7 linked regions of the Homo sapiens genome follow. The protein of the gene in region 3 interacts with the protein of the main gene of each other region in a pairwise test. Each region holds a gene or a part of one and is shown on either strand. Other genes may lie near its edges. The genes, in order: ZFTRAF1, XPO7, MAPK9, NHSL2, CEP126, ZBTB25 and SSU72.

What was found.
Region 1: the proteins of MAPK9 (region 3) and ZFTRAF1 interact in a two-hybrid assay, tested with the Homo sapiens proteins (one large-scale study listed by BioGRID).
Region 2: the proteins of MAPK9 (region 3) and XPO7 interact in a two-hybrid assay, tested with the Homo sapiens proteins (one large-scale study listed by BioGRID and IntAct).
Region 4: the proteins of MAPK9 (region 3) and NHSL2 interact in binary tests that used the Homo sapiens proteins (3 or more experiments, as listed by UniProt).
Region 5: the proteins of MAPK9 (region 3) and CEP126 interact in a two-hybrid assay, tested with the Homo sapiens proteins (one large-scale study listed by BioGRID and IntAct).
Region 6: the proteins of MAPK9 (region 3) and ZBTB25 interact in a two-hybrid assay, tested with the Homo sapiens proteins (one large-scale study listed by BioGRID and IntAct).
Region 7: the proteins of MAPK9 (region 3) and SSU72 interact in a two-hybrid assay, tested with the Homo sapiens proteins (one large-scale study listed by BioGRID and IntAct).

The regions. Positions count from the first base shown.
Region 1 is NC_000008.11:144,459,846-144,464,621, forward strand, and holds the start of ZFTRAF1 (zinc finger TRAF-type-containing protein 1), read right to left. Parts: upstream 3,027-4,776; 5' UTR 2,810-3,026; coding exon 2,438-2,809; intron 1-2,437. Other genes in the region: TMEM276-ZFTRAF1 (uncharacterized protein LOC157542 isoform 1 precursor), read right to left, coding at 4,615-4,767; TMEM276 (transmembrane protein 276 precursor), read right to left, coding at 4,282-4,767.
Region 2 is NC_000008.11:21,922,526-21,926,512, reverse strand, and holds part of XPO7 (exportin-7), read right to left. Parts: intron 1-3,987.
Region 3 is NC_000005.10:180,239,788-180,243,774, forward strand, and holds part of MAPK9 (mitogen-activated protein kinase 9), read right to left. Parts: intron 2,969-3,987; coding exon 2,786-2,968; intron 1,369-2,785; coding exon 1,244-1,368; intron 201-1,243; coding exon 137-200; intron 1-136. UniProt on the Homo sapiens protein: Serine/threonine-protein kinase involved in various processes such as cell proliferation, differentiation, migration, transformation and programmed cell death.
Region 4 is NC_000023.11:72,137,603-72,141,589, reverse strand, and holds part of NHSL2 (NHS-like protein 2), read right to left. Parts: intron 3,150-3,987; coding exon 819-3,149; coding exon of another isoform or gene 814-818; exon of another isoform or gene 228-813; intron 1-227.
Region 5 is NC_000011.10:101,963,157-101,967,143, forward strand, and holds part of CEP126 (centrosomal protein of 126 kDa), read left to right. Parts: coding exon 1-724; intron 725-3,987. UniProt on the Homo sapiens protein: Participates in cytokinesis. Necessary for microtubules and mitotic spindle organization. Involved in primary cilium formation.
Region 6 is NC_000014.9:64,490,186-64,494,172, forward strand, and holds part of ZBTB25 (zinc finger and BTB domain-containing protein 25), read right to left. Parts: intron 356-3,987; coding exon of another isoform or gene 349-355; coding exon 176-348; intron 1-175. UniProt on the Homo sapiens protein: May be involved in transcriptional regulation.
Region 7 is NC_000001.11:1,543,633-1,547,619, forward strand, and holds part of SSU72 (RNA polymerase II subunit A C-terminal domain phosphatase SSU72), read right to left. Parts: intron 1,371-3,987; coding exon 1,231-1,370; intron 356-1,230; coding exon 237-355; intron 1-236. UniProt on the Homo sapiens protein: Protein phosphatase that catalyzes the dephosphorylation of the C-terminal domain of RNA polymerase II. Plays a role in RNA processing and termination. Plays a role in pre-mRNA polyadenylation via its interaction with SYMPK.

The sequences.
Region 1 (4,776 bases), on a different chromosome or scaffold from region 3:
CGTTCTAGCAGGAACAGAGGGTGGAACCTGCTGCATTCCTGACACTGGCTGGCTCGAGACAGCCAATCAACGTGGTCACCAAGGAAAGCTAGTAGAATATGGTAGACTGAACCCAAGCTGGGGTGATGGCCAGCATGGGCCCAACCAGGGACACGCAGAAGGCAGCATGTGGGGGCCCACACCATCTGTGCCCAGATTCTCCAGGGAGCAGAGCAGGCCAGAGCCCAGGTCTCCAGGTCTGTGTTGACCTTCCAGGGGCACCACTCACAGCCGAGAGCCACCCGCCGGAGGTGTTCTTCGCAGCATTCAGGGAGGCCTGTGCCCACAGCACTCCTCGCTCAGCTGCTCTGTTCCCAGGGAAGTCACTGAACAGAGCCCCCAGGCCAGGGAGGGCCACCAGCCAGGGCAGCCCCAGCGCCTTCGGTCTCCATTACACCTGTTCAGCTCCCTGCCTCTGGCCGCCCAGAGCAGAACTCCACTCTGCACAGTGCAGGCCGGTTTGAACCAGCTAGGCTCAGAGGCCTGGTCACCAGGAGCTCCGGTCAGAAGCAGAGCCATCACTCTGTGCCGGGCCAGTCTAGATGGGGGATGCAGTGCACCAGGGACCAGTACCATGTGGCCCATCACCACCAGGTCCAGCTACAGCTCCAGCCCACCCACCAATGGGGAGACAAGGAGACTTCCCTGTTCCCCCGTGGCCTCACACCATTGGCTTGGCTTGTTGGAGTCTCCCTCGAGATCCAAGAAAAAGTTCTGGCCAAGCGCAGTGGCTCATGCCTGTAATCTCAGCACTTCAGAAGGCCGAGGCAGGCGGATCACCCAACGTCAGGAGTTCGAGACCAGCCTGGCCAACATGGCGAAACCCCGTCTCTACTAAAAAATACAAAAACAGCCGGGCATGGTGGCAGGCGCCTGTAATCCCAGCTACTCGGGAGGCTGAGGTAGGGAGAATTGCTTGAACTCGGGAGGCGGAGGTTGCAGTGAGCAGAGATCGTGGCACTTCACTCCAGCCTGGGTGACAGAGTGAGACTCCGTCTCAAAAAAAAGGAGAGTTCTTCCGCCTGGGAGGATCGAAGGTTGTGAGCCAGGAAAAAGGAGCTGGAGAGTGGGCACATCTTGGAAGCTGAGGCACTGCCAAAGCCAAGGAGTAACTGCTAACTCTGGGAGCCAGTGGCTCTGAAAAGTGCTCCCCTAGCTGGCCCTGGTGCCTGACACCCAGGAGGGTGGGTTAGAGCCAGTGCCCTCTCCCCACCCAGGCACACTGGGGTCCTCCCGACAAGGTCATGCCACAGCAAGAAGGACTTGGAGATCCAGAGTTTGGAGAAATGGCAACCTAGACTAGCCCTACACCACCTGCTACAAAAGTAGCTCCTCATCCAGGCCCCCAATTCAAACACAAGCAGGGAAACAAGGCCCCATTAGCTACTTCCAGCTCCTGTAAGTGTAAAGAAAGCTGACAGAGAACCTGCTTCATTTCTCACAGGGACTGGGGAGTTGAAAGAGAGGGAAAGACACAGGGAAGGTGGGGACACTGTACTCTGCCTCTGGGTGTCAACCAGTTTGTCCCTGCTGCTACCTGGGAAAGGGCATGTCAAACCCACCTGGGCCAGGTACCCTAACAGCCCTAGGCTGCTTAAGGGCTGAGTCCCACTGCCATGCGGATGTGAAGATGGGGGAGGAGGGGTGGGCCGGCTCCTGGAGCACTGGCTGCCTAGGAAGCCTGGCCTGGCCTGGGTGAGGTGGGCAGGAGCCTAGCGTGGGGCATGGCAAGTCCAGTTGGATGTGGGGTTTGGCTGGGACTGGAGAAGGTACCCAAACTGTGGGGCTTGTTGCAAATGGTTCATCCCGACAAACAGCAATCCCCTCTCCTTACTGTTCTTCAGGATGAACTGGAAATGGACCAAGAGAAAGGATTCTTCCACCCAGGAGGGTAGAAAAGGAGGCGTCCATAGGATGTTCAGGAGTGGAGGGACAAACTCGGGGGTGTGGCTGCCGGAAGAATGGGGAAGGAGCTCTCGAGCACAGGACTCTGAGCCCAGGGAGCTTGGGACCGGGTGGGTTGCGGGGAGCAGTTGCGGGCTAAGGATCAGTTTGAGGCTGTGGGTTGGGAGAGTGTTCAGGGGACCGTGGGGAAGTCTAGAAAAAAGAAGGGAGAGGTAAGCGGAAGACAAGCGATTCAGATCGGGAAGTACCGTGGATCAGAAAACAGAAAAGGGGGGTCCCGAGCGGAAAATAAAGCCCTGAGAGAAAGACAACGAGGAGCTTCGGAGCAGCCGCTGGAGCCCCGCTGGGCGAGGAAGTGGCTGTAAGGGCCAGAGAGGGTTCCCGGCCGCCGGGCCCCGCAGGCCTGGCCTCCGAGGAGACGCGGATCCTGGGGCCCCGCGGCGGGGGCTGCAGCCCCGGGCTGGGCCGGGTCGGGGTCGGCCGGCGGCCCTACCTGGTACACGGAGGCCTTGGGCAGGTCCAGGCACACGGTGCAGCACAGCACCGAGTAGAGCCGCTCCTCCAGTTTCCCGCTGCCGGCCGCCGCCGCCGCCGCCGCCGCCTCGGCCGCCTCGGCTGCCCGCAGCCGCTTCTTGGGCGGCGCGTCGGGGTCGCCGGCCGCCTCCTGCAGCTGTAGCTGCCGGGCGCCCGCCAAGCCCGCCTCGTCCGGGAGCCCAGGCCCCGCCGCCTCGCCCAGAGCCGCCGCCGCCGCCTGCCCGGCGGCCGCCCCGGGCCCGGCTCCGACCCCGACCCCGACCCCGGCCGGCACGGAGCCCGCGGGCCCCGCGGCCGGGCCGCCCCCGCCGGCCTCCTCGGCGCCGGACATAGCGGCCGGCCGGCCCGGCGGGCGGATGCCGGCGCGCTCCCCCGACTAGAAGTTAGGGGCGCCGCGCGCTCCCGCCGCTCTCCTGCCGCCGCCGCCGCGAACCCGCAGCCCCGCTCCCTGCGCCGCCGCCTCAGTGGGCCCGGCCCGCGCGTAGCCCCACAGCCGCCGCGGCCACCGACCCCGGCACGGCCGCCATCTTTGTTTTCGCTGTGCGCTTCCCCCCGCCCCGCCGCCACCACCCCCTCGTCTTCCCCGTCACGTGAGCCCCACGCGGGGCCAATGGGAGCGCCGCTTGGGGCAAGAAAGCGCAGGGACTAGAGCCAATGGGAGAGCGAGGGCCCCCGAAGGCCCGCCCCTGCAGAAGGTGGGCGGGGAGGGGGCGCGGCCTGCGAGAGTCGCGGAGGGACTCGCACCTGGGGGCAGGGAGGCCCACGCGAGCTGTGGCGCCGGCGCGGCACCCACGCTCCACGAGCCAGTGGCGGCCGCCGACCCCTACGGCGGGGTGTGCCTGTGTCTCTGTCCCCCAAGACTCAGGCTTGTGTTAGGGGCTCTCGCCCCCTTCCCCGCAGGGGAAGGACACAAGTGAAAAATCCCGCCGGCCACCCCTCTCTGTCGGGTGCGGGACCCCTTAGGTCTCCACAGGAGCAAGCGGAGAGACTTCCAGGAGAGGGGACTCCAGACCCCTAACCCACCGGAATCTAATCCTCTGCTCGTCCGAACCCCCTCTAACCCTGGGGTTGGAGACTGAAGGGGTCCACTGAGGAAAACGAAGGTATTAGGGAATAGGGCTGGCTTCCACAGGCCGGAGGTACACAGGAGGGCGAATCAGCTCTGGGAAGGATGTGCGTTTCTCGAAACGCCTGTGGTACAGCCCTCCCCTGCCTCCACCCTACTCTTCAGTTCTTGAAGGTCACTGCCCCAGAGGGCCACCTGCCAGGCCAGGCCAGGATATCTGGAACTCCACCATGTCCCTGGAGAGTAAGGGCCCAGGGCTATGTCTTCTCAGCCCAGGGGTCTTCCTGACAATAGTCAAAAGGAGGCCGGGCTGCATGAGACCCCATCCTAGTTCCAGCACATACCCTGTCAGGGTAACTGACTACTGTCCTGAGGGGCCTTAGGAAGCTCACTGAAAGATCCCTCAATCCCTCTCAAAAATGGGCAGTTTTCATATTCCTGCAAAATTCCTAAGATTTATTGGAGACTAGGCCTCTTCTCTGGATCCACAACCGTGTCCAGCCCAGAATCAGGACCCCCAAACGTGTCTGGGACCCTGTCCCTTTCATTCTGGTCTAGACAAGTCCCCACACGTGGCCAAAGGACAGCACCCAGACTCTGCCCCTGACCAGTCAATGTGCAGCAAACCCACTTCAGTAGGCAGAAGAGTCTACCCCTAGGGAGAAGGCGCCAGGAGCAGGCAGGTGGGAGGGAAAGTGTTCGGCAGGGCAGAAACCCTGCCTGGCTGTATCCAACTGTCACTCCCACTGGAGGCGCTGTGTATGCAGGGCCCGGCAGTAAGCCCAGCTGCCTACAGCCAAGGCCCAGCGACAGACATCCTCCTTCGGTAGCAGCAGCAGCCTGTCCTCCTCCAGCCGGCTCAGGAGGCCTGCCACACCCAGCATCGCCCCCCCCCACATCCCATAAGTGTTGGCCGTGAAGACAGCTACAATGAGGATGGTCACTGCGACCACCAACAGCATTGCCTGACCAGCCACAGAGCGGCCCTCAGGGCCGAGGTGGCCGCCAGCCACTGCCAGCACCATGCCTCCTCCCAGGAGCAGGTTGGCAGAGGAGCGGTCCCCATTCACCCAGTGGAAATCGAAGGCCAGAAGGGGAAGGCCGATGACGGTGGCCACCCAGGCTCCAGCAAGGCAGTCTTCGTGTGTGCTCAGCCCTGGGGCCAGCGTGGTGGTGGCAGCCAAGACCTGGAGCAGGAAGCCAGCAGCAGCCCCTCGACTTGCCTGTCAACA
Region 2 (3,987 bases), on a different chromosome or scaffold from region 3:
CAAAACTTTGCAAACAATTTTAAATAGAATTGGAAAAAATCCTAAGAAAACCCTTCATTTCCCTTTTCTAGCCTTAAATACACCCCTTTAAACCATAAATTGACTCAAACTTTAGGGCAAATGTCTAGCAAAACTCTCAGTTCTTTCTGAGACTGCACATTGTAAATATCATAATTTCTTATCATGCAAAGTACCAATGAGATCAGCATGTGTCCAACTCAAGTTCATATATTTAAAAGCTAAAAGGCCACTACAGTTATAAGATTACAATTTCCTGAAGTAGTACAAGGGATATTTTAATAATCTGCTTGTTTTCAGAGGAACATTGTTTTCCAGAGGAAAATATTTTGATTTTTTTTTTCATCTAACTAATGTTTTTCTAAGAGAGGTTTAAAACCCAGGGGCTTTTAAGTGAGAATCATTTCTCAGCCTACCGGCATCAACATTTGACTAATAATGTTAATTTCTTGTCCCATAAGAAATATCTTTCACTGCTTATTGTCCAACTAAGAGACCTCTTTCGTTACTGTTTGGGGCATAAGAGAGCTCAATTTGTGAGAAGTGCTACAGATGACTAGATCTTACAGAAAAAAACTCTGGGAGTTTAAGAAATTAGGCGTAAAGAAGAGGAAGATATATTTAAGATAGATAAAATGGAAATGTTGGTTTGAGCATAAATATTTTAAGGAATTTTACAAACATGTACATATGAATTGAGAACACGGTGCTATATTGGGGAGAGAATACAAGGATGACAACTGGAAATCCCATCCAGAATGCTTGAAGTACAAGGGACTTCACAGATCACTTAATCCAGGCTCAGAGACCAAACGAGTTTCCCAATTAAATGGCATAACACTATAAAAGGCTTAGCATGGTGCCTGGCATATAACAGACACTCAGTTAATACTGGTATCCCCCTTTCCCTATGACCAACCAAGTCACACTCCAGTAAGTCTTACAATAACCACCACCATGAACATCATCTAAATCTTCCAACAGCGAGTTCTCCAGTCTTCCAGGGATACCAGGTCTTTTAATCAGCTTATTTCAAGGAAAATTCTATTACTATTATCTCTATACCGATGTTACATTGCTGCGGTGAGCATTAAATGATATCAATTAATGCTAGCATGAAGTTTCCAATTCTGCCTTCTCTTAAATACATCCTTCCCATTTTATGGCAGTAGGAGTGTGTGTGTGTCCTTGTGTGCATGCACACATGTGCGAAGGGGTGAACAGCCATTGAAGCAAATATCAGAAATACTTAGGATCTAGGTTTTTTACAACTCTCTCCCTCCCCCAAGATTTTGATATGCCTCCTGGGTACCAATCCCATTCCATTGAGAATTTCCTAGTAATGAGTCACTATAAATGTTAGGAATGAATGTATTCCAGACATGTATTGGAATGGGGGAAAAGATAACGGGGTAGTGACTGCCCCCCATTCAGGGACATGTCGACAAAACCAGTCTCACTACAAATTCACAACTCAATGACCAGGCTTGTTGTGATGCTCAATTCAATGTAAGGCCCTGGAAGTAGAATATCACATCTTGTATTTCCTTCTATGTGTCTGCACAGTAACAAAAATGGGATATTAGTAGATGCTTAAGTGGTCACCATTAATCATCCTCAAGAATTTATTTCAATATTTAAAAATTCAGCTTGCATGTAACTCTCCAGGAACATTTATCGTGGTCCTGAACTTGCTTTTCAAATAAGTCAAAAGAGAAATACTTGTAAATCAGTTTCTCAATAAAATGTTGTGAGCATTTTCATCTAAAAAGAAACATATATTTAAACTCTAGTTATCAAGGTTCATGAATGGCCTAAAATTGTGGGTAAAATTTTGTGTAGGCACACTCTCCCCACCCCCACCAGAGAGCAGTAACATAGCTTCCATCATATTATGAAATAAATCCCCCCAAAGCTGTATAATCACTGCTCTGTACTGCTTCTCCCCCTGGCTTTGAAGCTAAAACTCTCAGGTTACTCAGCTTGAGTTCTAAAAGCAGATTTAAAAATAAAATGACAGGATAGTAGTTAGTGGGGTGGGGGGGGGAGGGGGGCTACAGGTAGCTGTTGAGATGGTATCAGGGGACTTCTGGGGCACCGATAATACTGACTTGATTTGGGTGCTGGTTAGTAAGGAGTATTCACTTTGTGAAAATTCATCAAGCTGAACACATATGATTTCTGTACCTGTCTGCAGGTATATATTTCAATAAAAAGTTTTTGAAAAAAATAACAAAGATGGGTCACTTATACACAGCATATATCATTACAGAATTTAATGAAGTCCTTAAAAATGATGCACTAGGAGAGGCCCATTGGTAAAGAACTGCAGCCTCCAGACAACAGCCAGTGAGGAACTGAGGCCTGACCAGGCCCGCTGTGTGTAAACCTAAAGAAAATTCTCTATCCTCAAGTCAAGCCCTGAGATTGACTGCAGCCCGGAGCCCCAGCTGAGAGTTTGACTGCAAATGAGACCCTGAACCAAAACCATCTAGTTAAGCCACTCCCAGATTCCTAACCCTGAGAAAATGTGAGATAATGTTAGGTGTTTTAAAAAGATGCAGTTTCAAAACACTATCTTCCTTGCACATACTGAAGTGGGCAAAGTAGCCTCAGTAGTTGTACCTACAGAGAGACATTAGCTTATTGGTTTAAACTGGCAACTTTCCCACCTCGAAAGGCTGTGGTACAATATTGCTTTCAAAACCCAACCAAGAAAAAAGAAAATACAGCTGGTGGTTATGAACATCAATTTCTGGGTCAAATGGAAGCTAATTTCTCTGTAAGATATAGAACAGGGATCTTCCTGATACTTCTTTCTATACCTTCATCTAAATTAGAGATTCTTCCATCACTGTACTGTATTTTGTTTTTTCTGTGTTAAGTGTTTGAATGATCCCACACGTATATATACATCCCTTAATTTTTCTCAAGGCTTCTCAGGAAATATACTAAAGTCAGAGTAATCAAGTAAATATATAGATATATATGTTTTAAATACAGACATTTCCAGTGTGGTGTTGAATAGGAGTAAAATAATGAAATAAAATACACACATATTATTTGTATAAACCCACGAAAGAGGTATAATCAGGGTGGGAGTGGGTGATGGGATATAGTTATTGCTTATCACCCAACACAGATGTAGCATGTTTTGAAATCAATGTATTCTTTCTTGTATCTACGTGTGTGCTCCTGAAGCCTGCCAAAAGAGCATCAGAATTGGATATTTCAGCAGTCTGGCTCCAGTGTCTTTCTCATTCTGAATCCTCTGAAGTGCCCAGCACAGAAAGGGCCTTGCACACACTAAGCATTCTGGTATTAGTCGAACTGGAAAAAAGTTAGAAAAGTTATGTTTTTTCCATTTAAAATTCTCAAAAGTTGTACGGAACTCCCTTTTCAAAATGGACTACCCATAGCACTTATCATTTCCTTGCATATTGTTAAAAGCTGAAAAAACAACCATCACTTTTGCTATAATCAGGCCGACTTTTTGCACCCTGCTAAAATTTAACCTGACAAGTTGTAATGATTCTTCACAACTCCCTGGAGTTACACTGGTAGTCAATATTTAATTACTGTGCCTGGAATTTAAAACAAACTATGACTACTTTGCAAATAGTACATTCTCCTAGTACAGTCATAATGCAAAGCCCAGTAAATAATAAGACCCAACACAACAACGTAGTAATTCCAGCAAAATCCTGGAATCAGTCTTCATTTCCATTATTTATGGTAAAACTAATATAATTCATATTAAATAGCATATTCGATATATAAATCATATTCTTTCCTTCCTTTTCCTCTCGAGCTCCTGAACACCAGCTAGCACTATTAAAACTAACATCTGATCCTTCTTAATCTTCTTCATCACCACTGTTCACTGAGCGTTGTCTTCATCTCTTTGCGATAACTTACCAGCTTTAGATATGTTAAAAAAAACATGAAAGGAAGGGCAACTAAACATAA
Region 3 (3,987 bases):
TGGGGAGAAAGAGGCTAAGTGGGTCGCAGGGTTTCTTGCCCCTTCCTGAAGGGAAATGTCACAAAATGAAAAGCCTCTGCTCTACAGGATTGGAAGAAATGTCAAAAGGAAGGATCAAAATAAGCTCCATCTTTACCTTTCCATTCTTCAATTGCATGTTCTCTTTCTTCCAACTGGGCATCATAAATTTGAGGTGGTGGCTAAAAATTAAATCATATGTAAAGTCAACAGTAATGCCTCAAAAAAAAATGAGGCACTAAAAAAGGTAAAATTGCTTGGAAGACTTCTAGTCTATTTATGATATGGATTTAGTTTAATTCAACACGTGGTTTAATAAAGATTTGTCATGTGATATTATATCAACTTTAGAATCAAAATAATTATGAAAAAGTTAACCAAAGAAGAGTTATTATGTTCCTCTTAATAATCACCTGACCTCAAAACGCAGACATCTGCCCAGATGTCATTAGAAACTCATCATCACAGGCTGTTTCCCAGAGACCCATTATGGACAAGGCACTGTGCTGGCAGCTATGGAAGGTACTGTTGTTTCTTAGAACAAATTTTACATTTTCTTCATGGGAGAACTCCCAAATCCAATGTCCAACTCATAAATGGACTGTTATAAAAGTCTGCTTATAAATTGGATTCTTTTTATATAAAACAATGTTTAAACTGATGGCAAAACCACAGGCCATGACATAAACATGTATTTCACTCATGGCATGAAGGAAGCCTGCCACTACGCAGTGATTTCCCTCACAGCTAAAGCTCACTCACACCAGTGCTGACACAGAAACACGCACGTGAGCACCAAACTCAGAGTGGAGCTCCTCCAGCGGGGGAACCAGGAGCTACAATGCCTTTAGGGAAGGATAAACAGACGTGTGATTTTTCAGCAAGTTGCTCAGCCTCTCTGGTTAAGTGGCCTAAACAAGAGGATGTAACCAAAGCCAATGGCACAGAATAGATGCTTAATAAACTATGAGCTCACAGCAGCATTTGCAAAATGGAGACTGGTAGCACCAAAGCGGAAGTTCATTCCCGAGGTACTCTGAGCTGGGGCTCCAGCAGCAAAAGAGCAAGCGACCCAGGTCTCAGACAACACTTGGCCTTTCTGTAACTGGGAGCCCCCAAATGGAGAACTTGCTACCCATATGTAGCCACTCTGGACGGACAGACAAGATCCAAGGAAATATAAGCCTGGCCTCTCTATATAAATCTTTTCAAAACAGATACTCACGGCTTCTGCTTCGGCGGGGTCATACCAAACAGTGATGTATGGGTGACGCAGAGCTTCGTCTACAGAGATCCGCTTGTCAGGATCAATCACTAACATTTTTGATAACAGATCTCTGGCTTGACTTGCTAGGGTGACAACAAATATTAAATTAATGCTGTTAATATGAAACAAACAGAATCATACAATAAAGAACTAAATATGACAACACAGATAGAACAAAGATATATTAATTTTGAGAAATGTTTGATAGGTTCAAGATGAATATAACCCAAAATTTTTTTTTTTTTTTTCGGAGACGGAGTCTCGCTCTGTCGCCCAATGCAGTGGCGCAATCTTGGCTCACTGCAAGTTCCACCTCCCGGGTTCACGCCATTCTCCTACCTCAGCCTCCCAAGCAGCTGGGACTACAGGCGTCTGCCACCATGCCCGGATAATTTTTTGTATTTTTTTAGTAGAGACAGGGTTTCACTGTGTTAGGCAGGATGGTCTCGATCTCTTGACCTCGTGATCCGCCTGCCTCAGCCTCCCAAAGTGCTGGGATTACAGGCGTGAGCCGCCGCACCCAGCCATAACCCAAACATTTTTAAGAAAAAGTCAAATGTCCACTTTCATGACAAACCAGGTTTCCAAATGTAGTTTTACGCCTCTGGATCTGCAAGGGGAAGAGAAACCTGGGCTCCCAGGGTGGTGGGGAAGAGCACCAGGCAGCCTCAGACCAATGTCTGGGCAGGGCCCAAGGCTGGGAAACCACAGCAAGGAAGGTGGCAATTGCCGAGCTGCGGGTGGCACTGCCCAGAGTGTGGGCATGAGGCACGGGGGAGTATTTTTCTCTAAGTCACATCGAAATGAAATTAGAACAGACTTTTCAAACCACACAACAATCTCACATTCCCACAGGATAAAACACTCACAGATGCTTCTGGCTGGCCTAGCTGTATACAGTGCTGGCAACTTACACTTTTTTTTTTAATCTACAGATTGGTATTTAGGAAAAAGAAAAACAAGTTCAATAACTTAGTTAAATATAAGGCTCACCTAGGTTTTGTCAATTAAAGTTCACAACCTGAATAAGCAAAGACTGGGGCTTTTCTGATTAAGGCACAGTTTACCTTCATGCGGACAGAATCAAATCTTTTCTTTTTCCTTAAACAATCACACTGTAGTAAAGGGTGCAGGAGAAGGTGGGGAGGAAGGACCTTTTTCATCGAACAACTGTCACATCGCTTCTGACTCTAGAATCTGCATTAAGTGTTCTTCTTACCTGAAAACTTTTTGAATTCCAGTTGCTGTAACTGTAACATAAGATTCTTTCAGACTGATTTGATTATTTTTATTTTGGCCAAAGGCTTCAATTAAGCCGTCTTATAGAGGATAAAGCTTCTAGACCTTTAAGCTTTCTCTCCTCAGTGCCTTCGTACCTCAGACTTCAGGCCTAAAATGACTTTCTCTCCCAAAACACAGGTTTTTAGAATACAAACATGAAAGAGTGAAAGCACCACCTGAATTACAAAACACAAGTATAAGAAAAAAAGGATATCTTACTTTTTATTTTGTCTCGCTCAGATTCTGATGGGAATATCCAATCTGGAAAGAGTTCTTCAAATTTGATTCCAGGATACTTTGGTCTGTTTTCGACATAATTCCTCACAGTTGGCTGAAGTTTCTTCATGAACTCTGCTGATGGTGTTCCCAGCTGCTCAATAACTTTATTCCACTGATCAATATCTAAGGAGTTTCTTGAGGAAAATACAACTGAAGTACCTTGTATTCACAGTACATGCGGCAGCATCACTTGAATAATATTTAAACCTATCGACTAGGCCACCCCACTGGATCAGCAGCGGAATTTTGAAATAATATTCAAATAAGGTTTGGGTTTCCAAGTTACACTATTTTTTAAAACTCTCACACTCTGCATCTTCATAAACTATGATCACAGTTTATTAAATCAACACAATGAAGTCTACACACCTTCCCACTCTAGTTCAAAATAAAGTTTATCTTATAACTAAGAATACCTATAGCAAAAATGATTAAACACGAAATTAGATAAACATTACATAAGCAAATTGAAATCAGTTTTCATACTAATGCTACCTTAGATTCATTCACAGCTCTCTAAAGAACAGAGGATCTCAAGGGACCTGTGGAGAGACCTATCTGACCTCCTCAGTTTACAGCTGGGAACCAAGCAACTGGGCTTAGACTGAGCCCAGCGACAGCTTTCAAATGATGCTCTATTTTACTTGGAACTGACTCTTCCCAACCATCACTGCGATCCCTAGGTAATGCATTTTATTTCCTTTCAAAGTGCGTGACCTGGGTTTCAGACTCAACTCTGCATTAAACACTCAGTGTGTCAGGAAAGTCAGGCTTCCTTGGGGTCTGTTTCCTTATTTGTTCAATGCAGACATTACCAGCTTTGCCTATTCCACAGGGTGCTTGTTAGGCTTGGGATAATTAGGATTACATGTGGGAAAGTGACACTGAAACTGTACTCGCTATACAAGAGAATGCAAGTGAGAAAAAAATAGCATCAACAGCAGCTTAAAAAAGTGCTCACTGAGGCATGTCTTAGAAAAATGAACTTACATCACCATGAAATAACCTAGGGAACTGGTACATGAACTCAGTTCTTCCAAAATGTTATACTTCCAAAAGACCCGCTCAGGAAATGTGTTTCTGGCATTCAATTCACTAGCAAATTCTCCTTCCTACTCCTGGTTCATACATATTGTCAAATC
Region 4 (3,987 bases), on a different chromosome or scaffold from region 3:
GAAAGTAGAATGGTGGTTGGAGGGAGGAATCTGCGGGGAGGGAGAAGGAGGAGTTGTTGTTTACTGGGTACAGAGTTTCAGTTTTGCAAGATGAAAGGAGTTCGGGAGATTGGTTGCTTAACAATGTGAATGTGCTTAACACGAATGAACTGCACACTTAAAAATGGTCAAGATGGTAAATGTTATGGGTACTTTACCACAATTAAAACAAAAAGAGACAGAAAAAGAAAGGATGAGAAGCATTATGTATTATGTTTATGGTTCCAGGAAGAGCCAAAGAACTCAAACCACCCAAGAAAGTGAGCTCCCTTTCCTCCGGAAGGCACAAAAAGAGGCTGCTGGTGGCAACATATTCCGTTGTTTCAGATGGCTCCGAGCCTGCCATGGCACTTGAACTCAGTCTGGTGGGGTACTGGGTCCCATGTAGGGAACTAAATTCACTGCAGCCAATGAAAAGTACTGTACAGTGAGGTGGAGTAGTTCCCAAGACAGGATGCATGCTTGGCTAGGGATGTGGGATGCTGAAGTCCTAGGGTGCTAGAACCTAGTTTGATTTCATTATCTCAGCACTAGAGATTTAGAGGGGAGAGTGGCCTAAACTGGGCCTTGGAGATCTGCCTCGGGCTAGTCTTGATCTCAAGGGCAGTAAGGCCAGCCCGTGGTTCCTATTTAGAGTAACTCAAACCCTCAAAGGGTGCCCGCTACTGACTTGGGATCAGGATAATTATTCTGGGGCATCTGCTTCCATCTCTGGCACTCCATTCTCACCCTCATCTCTCCTGTGACTGAAGGAAAAAGCCAGCAGACAGTTTACTAACCCAGAGGGCTTGCCTCCCTTTCACTGTCAGCCTGAGGAGTTGAAGTCACCCTTTGACCAAGTGATTGCAGGTCATCGCCGGTGGCGGGACACTTGGTGTCTTCCTCCAGGGTGATGATGGGGCTGAGAGGCAGCCTTGGTTCTGCCACATAGGCCTCCATTTGAGCTGTGGGAGAAGTGAGAGGCAGGTACAGCACGCTGGGTTTTTTTGGTACGGGAGGTGGAATCTTGCCTTTCTTTTTCTCAGCTTCTTCCTGGCTCTGGAGGCTAATTCTTTCAGGCAGAACCCTCACCTTGGGGCCCTCGTCCTCTACACTTCCCTGGGGAGGCTGCTGTGTTCCTGAGAAGAAAGCATCAGAGGAACTGGCAAAAGGCGTGAAAACAAGAGATGAGGGTGCTGTTGACTCCCCTGGGCTTCTGCCATCTGGGAAGCTGGAGGGCTTTGGTTTCCGCACTACCGTGTAGCTGTCTTGAGGGAGTGGTCTCGCATGTTGAATTGAGCTCCTGGGGGGCATAGCCAAGGTTGGTGAAGTTAGTGCATACTCCTCAGGAACAGATGGTGGCTTGTGGACCAAGCTTGGAGGCCTCCGGGCCACCGGAGGCTTCTCAGCTACGGGAGGTTTTGTCTTTCTCTCTGGCAAGGTGAAGACTTCTTCTGCTCTGGGTTCCTCGGCATACTCAGGGCTCTCAATATCATCTTCCGGCTCAGACTTGCTGACCGACCTCAGGCGAACAGAACGTAGGTCGGACTGAGTAACCATAGGCATGATTGGCTGGTTGGGATTAGTTTTCTGGGCCAGCTTGACGCCAAAATTTGTCTCTGAGTGGTGCCGACTCACCTTAGTTTTGCTTCGGATGGAGATACTCATCCCAGACAGATCCAGGTTGGGTGAAGAGGTCAGTGGTAGGTCAAATGATAGCCGTGACTTGGGAAATTTCTCCATTGGTGACGTCGGGGGTAGTGATGACTTCCTCTCAGGTACCACTGGACGTACCCGGACACTGCTGCTTGGAGGGGGTAAGTGGCCCAGGGTCAGGGACATGGAAACAGTGGGTGTTGGTGTTTCCGACTGGCTGGAGTAGCCACTGGAGGGTGACATCAGTCCAGGGGGCCTTCCCGGGGATGATATCTCCCTGGCCTCCACTTCAATGGAGAGTTGGGAAGGTGTAGTGGCTCTGGAGGTGGAAGGTGAGGCAAGAGACTCTGAGCTGCCCTGAACTTGGGTGCACTCAATGACTGTGGTGCCAGTGGCAGTGCTGGAGCTGGACAGGGATTGGTAGGTGTCACCAGACTTCCAGTCAGTAAGATACCAGTGGTGGGAGAATTGTGTACTTTCTGGATCTTTGTGGTTTGGAATAGCTGGGTGACCCTGAGCATCTGGGTGGGACGAGTGATGTCCTTGATGTTCCAAGGAGAGGCAAAGGCTCTTGGGCCTCTGGTCCTTGGGTAGTGCTGACCCACCTTCAGGCAAGAGGCCTGGCTCATCTTTGACCAGTGAGACACTGCGTGTGGGTGGGGAAGGCTTCTTTTTGGCCTTCCTAAGTGAGATACTCTTGGACCTCTGCCTTCTGTGCTGGGCCTCTTGCTGGGCACTAAGGGAGGCAATGTTGTCAGCACTGTTACTGCCCTCAGAGCTCGTACTGGCAAAAGGCAGGGCACAGGCCTCATTGGCCTTCTGCTCCTCATCATAGTCCACATCTGTGGTGCCTGAGTCTGTGGGCACAGACAGTGACCGCTCCCGGAATCTGCTGGCCCCACCGGGGCCTGTCTCCAGCCTCGAGGTCCCACTGGTCAGAAGGCCAATCTTGGAGGGTCTTTCGGGCATGTGCCTTTGCTGAATAAGGCGCTCAGGGTAGCCAGCTGACCCACTGCATCCTGCTGGGTTATCACGAGCGACAAGGAGGGTAGCAGCCTCCTTAGGAACCAGAGGTGGGACTTTGTTTAGAGAGACCCAAGAATTCCCACAGGAAGGATTTTTCCCATTTTCATTGACTTGATTGCTCTGGCTGGTGGCACTTGGAGTCATGTAGGTAAAAGCATCTCCCTTCCAGGAAGTGGAGAAGGTTGATTCTGTAGGTCCATTGCAAGAACTGGGGACACTGTACACCATTCCCATGCTCTCCATGCCAGGAGGGTTTGGGCCACTCCGTGCCTGGTGAGGTTCGTCCGGCTCACTGGAAGGAGTTCTCAGTACTGGCGAGGTGAGACTTGGGAACCGAGCATCCTGACCAACTGCAACTCTTCCATGAACCCCTTCTGGAACTGAGTGACTGGGCCTGATGTCGGAGGTGGTAGAGTGGGCCACACTGCCTGCTGGGCTGTTGCTGTGACCTGGAGGAAATAAACACAGGACATGAGTGCTACAGCAAGGGATCTCCCACCAGCTGTTTTGAGACAGGAGCACCAACTTTTTGCCAAGAAGCATTTGCCAACAGCTTGGTCAGAATTCCTTGGTTCTTCCCTTCCATGGATGAAGATGCTGGGGAAATTGGGTCCTTGCCCATCACCCCACAGTGAGACATACGGTGCCCTTGAATGGTCCAGATGGCTGCCAAATACTTTCCAGCTTTGATTATTCCTCTTAGAGCTGAAGTGTCACGTGGGATTACCTTGCATTTTCCCCATACTTTCACCCCAGGCTCATGAAACCATCACAGACCTCAGCATTCATCCATCTAGAGATGAGAGTAGAGGCTTCCGAACTAAGGACGGCATGGTGTGACGTTTGGCTCCAGCAATGACTCTGGAGCATGCCCAAGATGCAAAGCTAAGAGTCTGGTTGCATTGTTCGCACCCATCACTTTTAGGCTTTGCAACATAAGAGGCTGAGGATAATCTACGGATGTGAGGAAACCGTTTGGATGTTCCAAATCCCCAAAGGTTTTCTCATACACACAAACAATTAATACTGTCATGTCATTATTATTATTATTATAACTACTACTGCTATGAGAATTTGTAACAATAGCCACCATTTATTGGACACTGACTATGTACCAGGCACATGGTAGGCAAGTTACATACAATAACGCTAATCTTCATGCTAATTCCACCATGTCAGTATCATTATCCCCACTTTATAGATGAAGAAGCTGAGGCTCAGAGAGGTTATGTCACTTGGCCAAGGTCTCCTGGTTAGTAAGCGGAAAGACCAGGGCTCTTACCCTCT
Region 5 (3,987 bases), on a different chromosome or scaffold from region 3:
CATATGCCTTTGAACTGTTTTATACCTTCAGGTTATAACTTTGCTAAACATGCCTGGCCAGCCTCAAAAAAAGAAGAAAGTAAAATCCCTGTACATGATGATTCTAAAACTAAGCAAGGTAAGCCACAAAGAGGTAGAGCAAAAATAATTAGAAAACCAGGATCTGCAAAAGTCCAATCAGGCTTTATATGTACAAACAGAAAAGGCGCTGTCATTCAACCACAGTCTGCAAGCAAAGTCAACATATTTACACAAGCTCAGGGAAAATTAATTATACCTTGTCCTCCTCCTCAATCTACATCAAATATTAGAAGTGGTAAAAATATACAAGTGTCTCAGTGTCAACCAGTAACTCCTGAAAATCCTCAAAACATTATTACACATAACTCTTTTAATTCAAAACATGTGCTTCCAACAGAACACAGTTTGAATCAGTGGAATCAGGAAAGTAGTTCTCCACTCTCAAATGCTTGTTCTGACCTAGTCACTGTGATACCATCACTGCCATCATATTGTTCTTCAGAGTGCCAAACTTTCGCAAAAATAAATCATTCAAATGGCACTCAAGCAGTTGCCCGGCAAGATGCGACATTATATTGCACCCAAAGAAGTCCTGTTTGTGAAGAAAGTTATCCGTCTGTGACTCTAAGAACTGCTGAAGAAGAATCAGTTCCCTTATGGAAAAGAGGTCCTAATGTCCTGCATCAAAATAAGAGGGCTACAGGTAAGAATAAATTTATAGCTTTTTATAGATAAAATGTACACCTTTGTTAAAGTCATGTGAAATTGTTCCTATTTATGTATGGCCATACATACTACATAAATATTAATATTAAACAATAGCTTTATAGAAATAACTTACCTCCAGGCCAAGCACAGTGGCTTACACCTGTAATCCCAGCACTTTGGGAGGCCCAGGCGGGCGGATCACTTGAGGCCAGGAGTTCAAGACCAGCCTGGCTAACATAGCGAAATCCCATCTCTACTAATAGAAAAGTTAGCCCGGCATGGTGGTGCGTGCCTATAGTCCCAGCTACTCGGGAGGCTAAGGAAGAAGAATTGCTTGAACCTGGGAGGTAGAGGTTGCAGTGAGCCGAGATCATGTCACTGCACTCCAGCCTGATGACAGAGCAAGACTCTGTCTGAAAAAAAAAAAGAAAGAAGTAACTTACCTCCTGTAATATTGTGATTTTTGGCCAGGCACGGTGGCTCATGGCTGTAATCCCAGCACTTTGGGAGGCCAAGGCACGCGGATTTACTTGAAGTTGGAAGTTCGAGACCAGCCTGGCCAACGTGACGAAACCCTGTCTCTACAAAAATACAAAAATTAGCCGGGCATGGTGGCGCGTGCCTGTAATCCCTGCTGCCTGGGAGGAGGCAGGAGAATTGCTTGAACCCAGAGCCCAGGAGGAGGAGGTTTCAGTGAGCCAAGGTGGTGCACCACTGCACTCCAGCCTGGGCAACAGAGCCAGACTCTATCTAAAAAAAAAAAACAACAACAACATTGTGACGTTAGTAGCTGAATCCTTTTAAGAGAATGACCCAACCAGTGCTCAACTGAAATTAGAAACTTTTGCCAGCCTCCATTTTTTTCCATGACTTTTCCTGTTAGTTTAAGAGGAAGGACAAGGAATAGGATCTGATTCTTGTCCCATATTATTCTGTCATTACTATTGTAGTCAAATTTTCCAACAAAGTAAGCACAGTGAAAAATATTGTTTAAATTATTATAAACAAGTGAATACATGTAGTTATATTTATTTTTCTTTAAAACTTTTGTTAAATTGAGTTGCTATAAACTAATATTAATTAGATATACCTAATTCTCCCATTCTCTTTCCCAAAGTGTGGTAGCTCTGCTTTTATCTGCTATGACTATTGGTTTTTGTGAGAGCAAAAAAATGATATCATTGTCTTGAAATATTTTTGAAAATTAATTCTCTATAGAATGCCATTGCCCTTACTAGCTGGTCGACTCTCATAAAACTTCTTTCCTTCTATGAAGGAATAAACTAGAAAGCAATATATTTTCCTGCCAATAGGAAACAGTTGCCTATTGAGAAATAGTTAGGACTGGAGTCTGGAGGCAATCAGAAAAACAACTCTTGTTTTTCCAAAGGTATGAATAAATATTGATATATAATGAGAGTTTAAAATTTAATATTCAAAGTCATCTTCAATTAAACCATGAGTTTTTAAGGCCAAGGGACATTTGTGTAATTCATCACAGTATCCCCAGATCCTAACAGTGCCTGGCACTTAGTAATCACCCAGACTCTACTTGAATTGAATGGATAGAAGCCACATTAGCAGAAGGGAAGCTAAATGCAGACACTATAATCTAAAAATCTTCATTACTTGTCTACAAAAATCTAGATTTTAAAAAATTGTTTCTCTCACTAAAATTATGATTTTTTTATCCAGTCATTTCAGAATGTAACTTTAGCTTTCACAACACTTCAAAAAAATGAAGGTATCGTACAGATTAAATATTCTAAAATAAATAATGATAGTTACCCTTTTTGAGTTTGTAGCTTGTACCAGTCACAGTACTGTTTTATACTTACTGTCTCATTTAAACCTTGTAATAATGCTGAGAAATAAATATTTTTAAGACACTGTTTTGCAAAGAAGTAAGCAGAATTATCCAAGGTCAAGAGCTAGTAAATAGCAGAATTGGTATTTTGATCCAGATCTCTATGGTTCCAAGTCCTGTGCTTTTTCTACTAAAATCATATAGTAAATATAGTGATAAAGCAAATATCATATATCACACTCTGCTAATTAGGAAAAATATTAGGAAACTTATAGTTTCCCAATAGCTTATGTACAAAAGGGTAACATATTAAAATTATCTGATTCTCTGATAAAGGAATGGGATACATTTTATCTGGAGAAACCAATATTTTCCTGACATTTAGTCAAAGGAGGTAGTTCTCTCTGGGACATTCGTATAAGGGACATTGGAAAATGTAATGAATTTTAACATTCTTAAATGTTCTTAAATATTCACACTGTTGTAAATATCTATACCTATTAATACAGCGATTATACTTAGAAAATATAACAGTACTAACAATACTGAATATTTTGTATGTTCAGTCATTTAAGCTTTTTTTTCCAAAACTGTTTAAATATAAAATGCTTCAAGTGAACTCTTTGTTAATACTGGATTACAGTTCAGTGAGCATTTGTGGGATTTTTTTTCCTACTCTCTTATTTGCAGTTCATTTTATTTTTATACCCTTATGCATCCAGAGTTGACGATTGTGGAGAGCATCTTGTTCTCAATTAGCATTTCCAGAACACTCTAGCATAACTCTCTAGGAAAAACTCTTCCAATTAGATCCAAGCCATTCGACTATACCACCTCCTGATGTCTCCAGTTATTTCCCCCCTAAAAGATGACTTTGATATTTGGTTCACAGTCTTCATTTCCATACAGAGTCTTTGCCATCATATTGGATAGTTCAGCTTTTATATGGATGAGCAAACATCCTGATCCCTCTCACTCCTTTTTCATCTCTAATAACTTTCTATACAATTCTGCCTCAAATACCCTTTCCCTTTGTTATATTCTGGACCTCATCAACATTCATAACTCCTCTACTTCTTTTCTTTATTTCAGCTTTTATTTTAGATATAGAGGGTACATGTGGATGTTTGTTACATGGGGATATTGCATGATGCTAAGGTTTGGGGTATGGATCCTATTACCCAGGTAGTAAGCAAACTCACTCACTCCTCTACTTAAGCACATTCTCCTCTCTTTTCCCTACTCTTACTCCTACCATTCTTCTACCCTACTGGGCTTCTTTAGTCCAGTATTTTCTCTACTTTCTCATTCCAATTCATCATCTCTTTCTTTCTTTTTTTTTTTTTTTTTTTTTGAGATGGGGTCTCACTTTGTTGACCAGGCTAGGGCGCAGTGGCGTGATCATGGCTCAGTGCAGCCTGGGACTCCTGGACTCAAGCAATGCTCCCATC
Region 6 (3,987 bases), on a different chromosome or scaffold from region 3:
TGACAGAGCAAGACTCTGTCGCCAAAAAAAAAAAAAAAAAAAAAAAAAAAAAAAAAAAATTATAATTTTACTTCTTAGTGTGACTCCGTAACAAAGAATTTCCAAAATGATACTATAATAAAGCTTATATAAATCACAATATTAAAAATTCTTATTTACAAAAACACATCCTTACCTTGTTTGGTGAATAAATATCATCTTGAAATAGTTAGAAAAAGCAGCAAGCACTGCTCTGTGGGCTTTGAAGTAAACATCTCCAATTGCAACTGTGCAATCACACAGAAAACCAAATTCTCGCTGCATGTTCAGCTGCTGGAGAAGAACAAGGCTATGGCTGGCAGTGTCCATTGTGGTTCTGAAAAAAAGGACAAGATAAATGTAGATAGGTGTGTATGTATATACGCATTATTTTTTATTAATACAAAATTGTCTACAGTTCACACAAACCTACAGAGTAACAAGGAGATCTAAATTTAAATGAAATTATTCAAGTTTTCAATCCTATTACTTTCACTGCAAACACGGCTAACACTAAATTCCTCCATTATGACAACTGATATAAACTCTGCTGAACCATAAAATATGACCCTTTTTCATCTGGTAAGAAGATAGCTTGGTATGAGTGACACATGAAGACAGACCTGTCCTTTTCCATCTATGTGAACACAATGTTTCTAATCTTGTTTCCTCATTAGAAAAATGAAAATGAGATACTGATTCCTGCCTCAGAGTTAAATAACTTATGTGAAAATCATGTTGTAATGGAAACTGCTATTCGATGTTAGCTATAAATGTTAATAACATAACACGGTATCCTGGCTGAGCTAGAGATGTCACTCCTCCTCAGGGATCCTCTGGTGCTCAGGGGATACTGGCTTCCCAACTCTCATCAAATGTTTGGGGGACTTATCATCACAGTAGCTCAGGAACTCTTAAAATAGATGTCAAGCCACATCCCCAATTTACTTGTGGCCCAAGAGCCTCCTGAGAAAGAACTTAAGCTGGCGCAGTGGCTCATGCCTGTAATCCCAGCACCTTGGGAGGATGAGGCAGGAGGGTTGCTTGAGCCCAGGTATTGGAGACCAACCTGAGCAATATAGTGAAACGTCATCTCCACAAAAAATAAAACAATTAGCTAGGTATGGTGGCATGCACCTGTACTCCCAACTACTTGAGGGGCTGAGGCAGGAGGATCACTTAAGACTGGGAGGTCAAGGCTGCAGTGAGCTGTGATCACACCACTGCACTCCAGCCTGGGCAACAGTGAGACTCTGTCTCAAAAACACACACACACACACAAAAGAAAGAACTGATCTCAACTGGATTCAGACGCATATTATAATGTAGGTTCCCAAAGGAAGTAAAAGGCAAGGTGGAACAACTGCGGGGAAGCCTATATGAGGAAGAACATGCAGAATTCTGGCCAAGAAGCCGAGTATAAGCAGCAAAAACATTCAGAAGTGCCCTGGTTTCAGGCAGGTGGCAGACTGTACATCATCTTCTCTACCCTACTGTGGAGAGAGCCCTGGTACTTTAGGCAGAAGGTAGCTGTAGTATAAAGGGCATCATTGGGTGGCCAGGAGAACATCCTTTGAAAGAGCAGACACTGAAAAAGAGAATGAGGTTTCCACACCAGCCAGCCAGACCAAGGTCTAAGGAGGTCAGTGATGTAATGCAGGGTTAGCCGTCTAAAGATTGGCAGTGGCTTGGGCAGCAGACAGCTAAGTGATCAGTAATATAATAAATATAGCTAACATTTTATAGTGCTTCCTATGTGTCAAAAATTAGCCAGGCACGGTGGTGCATGCTTTAGTCCCAGCTACTTGGGTGGATGTGACAGGAGGATAGCTTTAGCCAGGAAGATTGAGGCTACAGTAAGCCATGATCATGCCACTGCACTTCACCCTGGGTGACAGAGCAAGACCCTATCTCAAAAAAAAAAAAAAAAAAAAAAGGCAGACTCTATTAAAACTACATATTTAATGTACTGATGTGGAATAATCCCCAAGTTATATTATTATTATTATTATTATTATTTGAGACGGAGTTTTGCTCTTGTTGACCAGGCTGGAGTGCAACGGCTCCATCTCGGCTTACTGCAACCTCCGCCTCCTGGGTTTAAGCGATTCTCCTGCCTCAGCCTCCCAAGTAGCTGGCATTACAGGTGCCCGCCACCATGCCCAGCTAATTTTTGTATTTTTAGTAGAGACGGGAGTTCACCATGTTGGCCAGGCTGGTCTCAAACTCCTGACCTCAGGTGATCTGCCCACCTCAGCCTCCTAAAGGCATGAGCCACCGTGCCCGGCCTAACAAACTAAAAATCTGTATTGACAATTTCAGCATGTGAAAAACGTGTCTTAGAATCAATGAAATGGTTCATATTGAAGCATCTTAAACTAGCCTGATAAGTTGTCTCAAAAAAAAAAAACAAAACCAAACCCTCGGATCATAAACATTTTCACCAGTTCTTCCCATTATATTGAACTACTGAACCATAGGGAAATGAGACATAGCACACTAATAAGCCACCCATACAGGAATCTTATGGTTAATGGTCTGTTGGTAACAGTTAAATTCTTCACTTATTCAACAGATATTTTTGAAGAGCAATTTAATAAAGAAAAAATGTGTAAAAGCCTGCATTGTACAAGGCGTGGAGACAGAAAAAAATGACAAGATGCTACACTCAAGATTACAGGCTCACAGGAAAGATAAAACATCAAACCATAATTATAATATGAAATAAATGCATTCAGTAGCACAGAGCAGTTAGAGAACATGCTATCAGAGGGAGATAAACACAGGCAACTTGATGGGAAACAAGGCCAGGCAGAAAAAATAAAATGAATAAAATTACTGGGAAGAATATGAATAGTTAGATAACAGAAGGATTCAGCTTGGCATAGAAAAAAAAAGTAACAGAAATAATGAAATGTGGTCAGTTCAAAAAGCATACAGAATATAAGACTAAAAAGTAGTGTCGTGTTTGAAGTGAACTATGTAAGATGTTTGAGTAAGAACAGCATGATCAGTTAACTTACTCTGTGGGAGGGAGAACAGAGCGTGGTAGTTAAAGCTTGAACTAAAATCAGACAGCTTAAAATTTTAGCTCTGCCATTTACTAGCTGCGTGGTCTTGGCAAGACACTTAACTCTCTGGGCCTCCATTTCACTTATAAAATATGGACAATGACAGTATCTAACTTATAGGTTATTTGAATTTAATGATATAATGCACTTAGAAACAGTGGGCCCACAGTTAGTGCCTAATAAATACTAGGCATTATCATCATCACCATCATTAGGCGTGAGTAAAGACTGCTCTAACAGCAACATATAAAAAATATTAGCAAGGGAAAAGGCATGGAGAAAGACTGGCTAGGAGCCTACTATGGTATCAAAGTAATCGCAGTGGGAATGAAGGAAGGAATACAAGAGATACATCAGACACAAAACTGACATGACTTGTCACCACAGAGATCAAATCAAAGGTGAGTCTCAGAATTCCAGCTTGGGTAATTGGAAGAATTCATCCATTCCTTCAGATTACATTTTCAGAGTAACTGCCATGTGCTAGGTGTTGATATAAAGGCAGAGTCCCAGAACATTAGAGAAGAAGTACAGAAACCGTCTTGATAAGAGGTTCTGAGACCCCACCTCAAAAAAAAAAAAAAGAAGAAGAAGAATAGGGGTTTCACTTCAGACACTCTGAGCTCCAAGTGTCTACCAGGTATCTAAGTAGAAATGTTTAGTGATCAGCGGGGACAAGAAGCAGGACAGGGCTCTAGAGAGAGCAGAGCCAGAGAGGGAGAAGAGGCCTCTGAAACGACAAGGCTGAAGTAACCAAGTATGAAAATAATAAAGTAGACTAAAAAGTAGAATGAAATAAGAGGGAAAAAAGCTAAGAATGAATCTTTGGAAAACAGAAAAGACAAAATAAGACAGAGGAGGAGAAAAAAGAAAACATCGTCATTGAGGAAAGGCAATG
Region 7 (3,987 bases), on a different chromosome or scaffold from region 3:
ACGGCCTCGGCCACTCCCCTCTGTCACGGCCTCGGCCACTCCCCACTGTCACGGCCTCGGCCACTCCCCACTGTCACGGCCTCGGCCACTCCCCTGTCACGGCCTCGGCCACTCCCCTCTGTCACGGCCTCGGCCACCCCCTCTGTCACGGCCTCGGCCACTCCCCTCTGTCACGGCCTCGGTCACTCCCCTCTGTCACAACCTCTGCCCAGCGCGGCGCCCAGCCGGGTACTTACACACTGGCAGAGCTCACAGATGAGAAACGCCCCCAGGGTGGCCTCCTCGTGGTTGTCCTGGATGTCCACATTGACCACGTGCACAGGCTGGCAGGTCTCCTGTTCTCTGGAATTCAGATCTGATTGGGACAAGGTGACACAGACGTCAGAGGCTCCAAAACCAGGGAACAGGCAGTCAATGTGGCTGAGTCCCCAGCTCTGCCGGCTGCAGGCCCAGCCCAGCCCCAGTGGTTTCTGGACTCTGCAGTTTGGGGAGCACAATGAATGAGCCTCAAACCGAAGGCGGCTGATGGTTCGAGGAAACCTGAGCAAATCTCCAACTCAGCACAAGCTGGTCTGGGACTCCCCACCCACCAGCCAGTCCTGGGGTGAACCGTGACTGGCATTGCGACCCTTCCCCGTCACTAAAGACCAGCCCTCCCTGCTCCACCGCCAGCTCCACACAGGGTCCATCCGCTTGAAAAATGGGCCTGGCGCGGTGGCTCTCGCCTGTGATCCCAGCACTTTGGGAGGCTGAGGCGGGCGGATCACTTGAGGACAGGAGTTCAAGACCAGCCTGGCCAACATGGTGAAACCCCGTCTCTACTAAAAATACAAAAATCAGCTGGGTGTGGTGGCACACGCCTGTAGTCCCAGCTACTCGGGAGGCTGAGGCAGGAGAATCACTTGAACCCGGGAGGCAGAGGTTGCAGTGAGCCTAGATTGTACCACTGCACTCCAGCCTGGCGACAGAGCACGACTCTGTCTCAAAAAACAAAACAAAAAAACACCAAGGAGAAAAGAGGCCCCTTGAAGCCCATGAGGCTGCAGCCAGCACATGGGTGGTTCAGCGACCAGCGGCCCTGCCTGCCTTCCAGGGTGCTTCACACTCAGGTCTGCTCCCCGGCCCCCGCCACTCTAGACGGGCTGTACTGGTCATGGTGGGGCCCTGCAGGCATCCCCAGACCCTGTGAGAGCTGCTGGAGCCCAGCCCAGCACGCAGCCGCCTCCTCACCTTCCACCACCTGGTCATACACTCTCTCTTCGCAAGTGAGGATCAGATCAAACAGGTCTTTGCAGTTCTGGAATCTTTCTGGCCGGGGCTTGATTCTCTTATTTCTGTCCAGCATATGTAAAATCCCATTCTGTGTATAGCTACACATGGGAGTTAAGGAACGTCAGAGAAAAGGCATCTGTGTATGAAGCCTGGAAGCGCCTGTGTCCTGGACACCCAGCCCCTTCCCTGCCCCACAGCAGAGGCAGCCGGGACGAAGGCCTGGACAGCGGAGTGGGCCATGCCCTGGTGAGGCAGGGGCCTCACTGTCCTAGGAGGTCCCACAGAAAACAAAGTGGGCGATGGCAGGTGCTTGCTCCTCGCTGTCCCCCAACTCGGCAAAAAGACCCAAGGCCCGCAGGACACCCCCCGCCCCCGCCCAGCATGACACCTTCTACCCAGACCTCTCCCCTCACTGCTGGCCCGGCCCAAGCTGCCCTTGGCCTCAGTCACTGTGTCTCCGCAGTCGGATCCTTCTTCCTCCCTCTGCTCCCTGTGCAGTGCATGCTGGCTCTGAAACCTCAGCCCTTCAGCAGAGACAAAGCAAACCCGGAAACCCAGTCCCCAGTCTAGCTCAGCTACAACAGAGTCAAGAACATCGGAAAACCCAAAGAAAGGAAGCTCCAGGCCGGGCGCAGTGGCTTATGCCTGTAATCCCAGCACTTTCGGAGGCCGAGGTGGGCGGATCACGAGGTCAGGAGACCGAGACCATCCTGGCTAACACGGTAAAACCCCGTCTCTACTAAAAATACAAAAATTAGACGGACATAGTGGCACATGCCTGCAATCCCAGCTAATCGGGAGGCTGAGGTTGCAGTGAGCCAAGATCATGCCACTGCACTCCAGCCTGGTCAACAGAGCAAGACTGTCTCAAAAAGAAAAAGAAAAAAAAACAGAAGGTTCAGCAGCAATCAGCCTGGAAAACGCTGATACAAAAACCAAGAGGGCAAGACAGTCGAGGAGGGAGATGCCACAGCCTCACTGACTATGGGATGGTGGAGGGCAGGATGAGGCCTGAAGGCACTTGGCGTCCAGCCCAGCTGAAAGGGGGCCTTGGGGTGAACGCTGACACACACCGGCCCCAGCAGTCCCAGGAAGGGGCCACAGGAGCCTCTGGGGTCCTCAGGGTGGGGCATCCTCCCACCATCCACAGTGGCCATGCCTGGCCTCAGGGGTTCCCAAGGAAGGGGCTCACTTCCCCAAAAAGAGAGACTGGGTTCCCAAAGATGAGCTCTGTGGTCTGCAGGAGCTCATTTGAGCCATTCCAGATGGTCAGGGACAAGTAACCACTTTCAGATAAACAGCCTAGCTGACAGGAATTCTAAGTGAACTCAGCTACCTTCCTGGGTAGCAAAAATAGTTTTTATAATAGTTTTATAATACATTGAAGTGGTTGATCTAACGGCATCTGACCCTGAGCTGCATCCTTGGGTCACTGTCAGCAGCGTGGAAGTCACACACCCACCCCTGACGTGTGTCTCCTCCTGCACATTGGAGTCCCGCCTGTGTCCCCGAGGCCCCTGGAAGCAGCTATGACACCCGGGTCCATCTCTGGGGAACTTAGTCCTTCAGCCGCTGAGAATCAAAGTCTGCGGAAAGAAGAGCTCGAGGCCGGGTGCGGCGGCTCACGCCTGTCATCCCAGCATTCTAGGAGGCCGGGCGTGGCGACTCACACCTGTCATCCCAGCACATCGAGAGGCCGAGGCGGGTGGATCACCTGAGGTCAGGTGTTTGAGACCAGCCTGGCCAAGATGGTGAAACCCCGTCTCTACTAAAAATACAAAAGTTAGCCAGGTGGGGCGGCACACACCTGTAATCTCAGCTACAGCTACTCAGGAGGCTGAGGCACGAGAGTTGCTTCAACCCGGGCGGCGGAGGTTGCAGTGAGCCGAGATCACACCACGGCACTTCGGCCTGGGCGACAGAGTAAAACTCCTTCTGGAAAACAACAACAACAACAAAAAAAAAAAAAAAAAAAAAAAAGGCCGGGCGCGGTGGCTCACACCTGTAATCCCAGCTACTCGGGAGGCTGAGGCAGGAGAAGCTTGAACCTGGGAGGCGGAGCTTGCAGTGAGCTGAGATCGTGACACTGCACTCCAGCCTGGGCAACAAGAGCAAGACACCGTCTCAAAAAGAAAAGAAAAAAAAGAGCTCAAGACGGCCTGACCTTGTTGTGTGCAGCCACATGCAGAGGGGCAGGTGCAGGGACCGGCTCACGGAGAGGAACCGGGGTCAGGGTGCAGGGGTCCAGTGGCAGCTTCATGGTGGGCACAGGGATCACCCTCCCTGCACATCCCTGAGCAAGACACAGCCGGGGGTGAGGCCGTGGGGGCTCCTGGGGATGGGACTGGTGTCACTGGCTGGCAGAGCTCATGGACGTTCAAGGCCAGCTCTTCCCTGAGGCCTGGACAGTTCTAAGTCCTTTCCTCCTTTACGTCATTCTCAACTATTTATGTAGATGAGGCAATAAATTAAGAATCATTCAGTTAAGGAGAAATGTCTACTTCAGGGACAAAGCAGCAGCCTCCTCAGCTACACAAGGATGAGCGAGCAGCCACCCTTCTGGATCTCCTGGCGAGGAGATGCGAGGTGAGGCCCCGCCCAGAGGGCTAGACCTGCAAGCCCCACCAGAGGCTGTGAGGACCTGAGGAGGACCAAAGGGACCACAGACCAAGCCATGAGCTCACAGGGACGCAAGATCCCACCTGAATTCCGGCA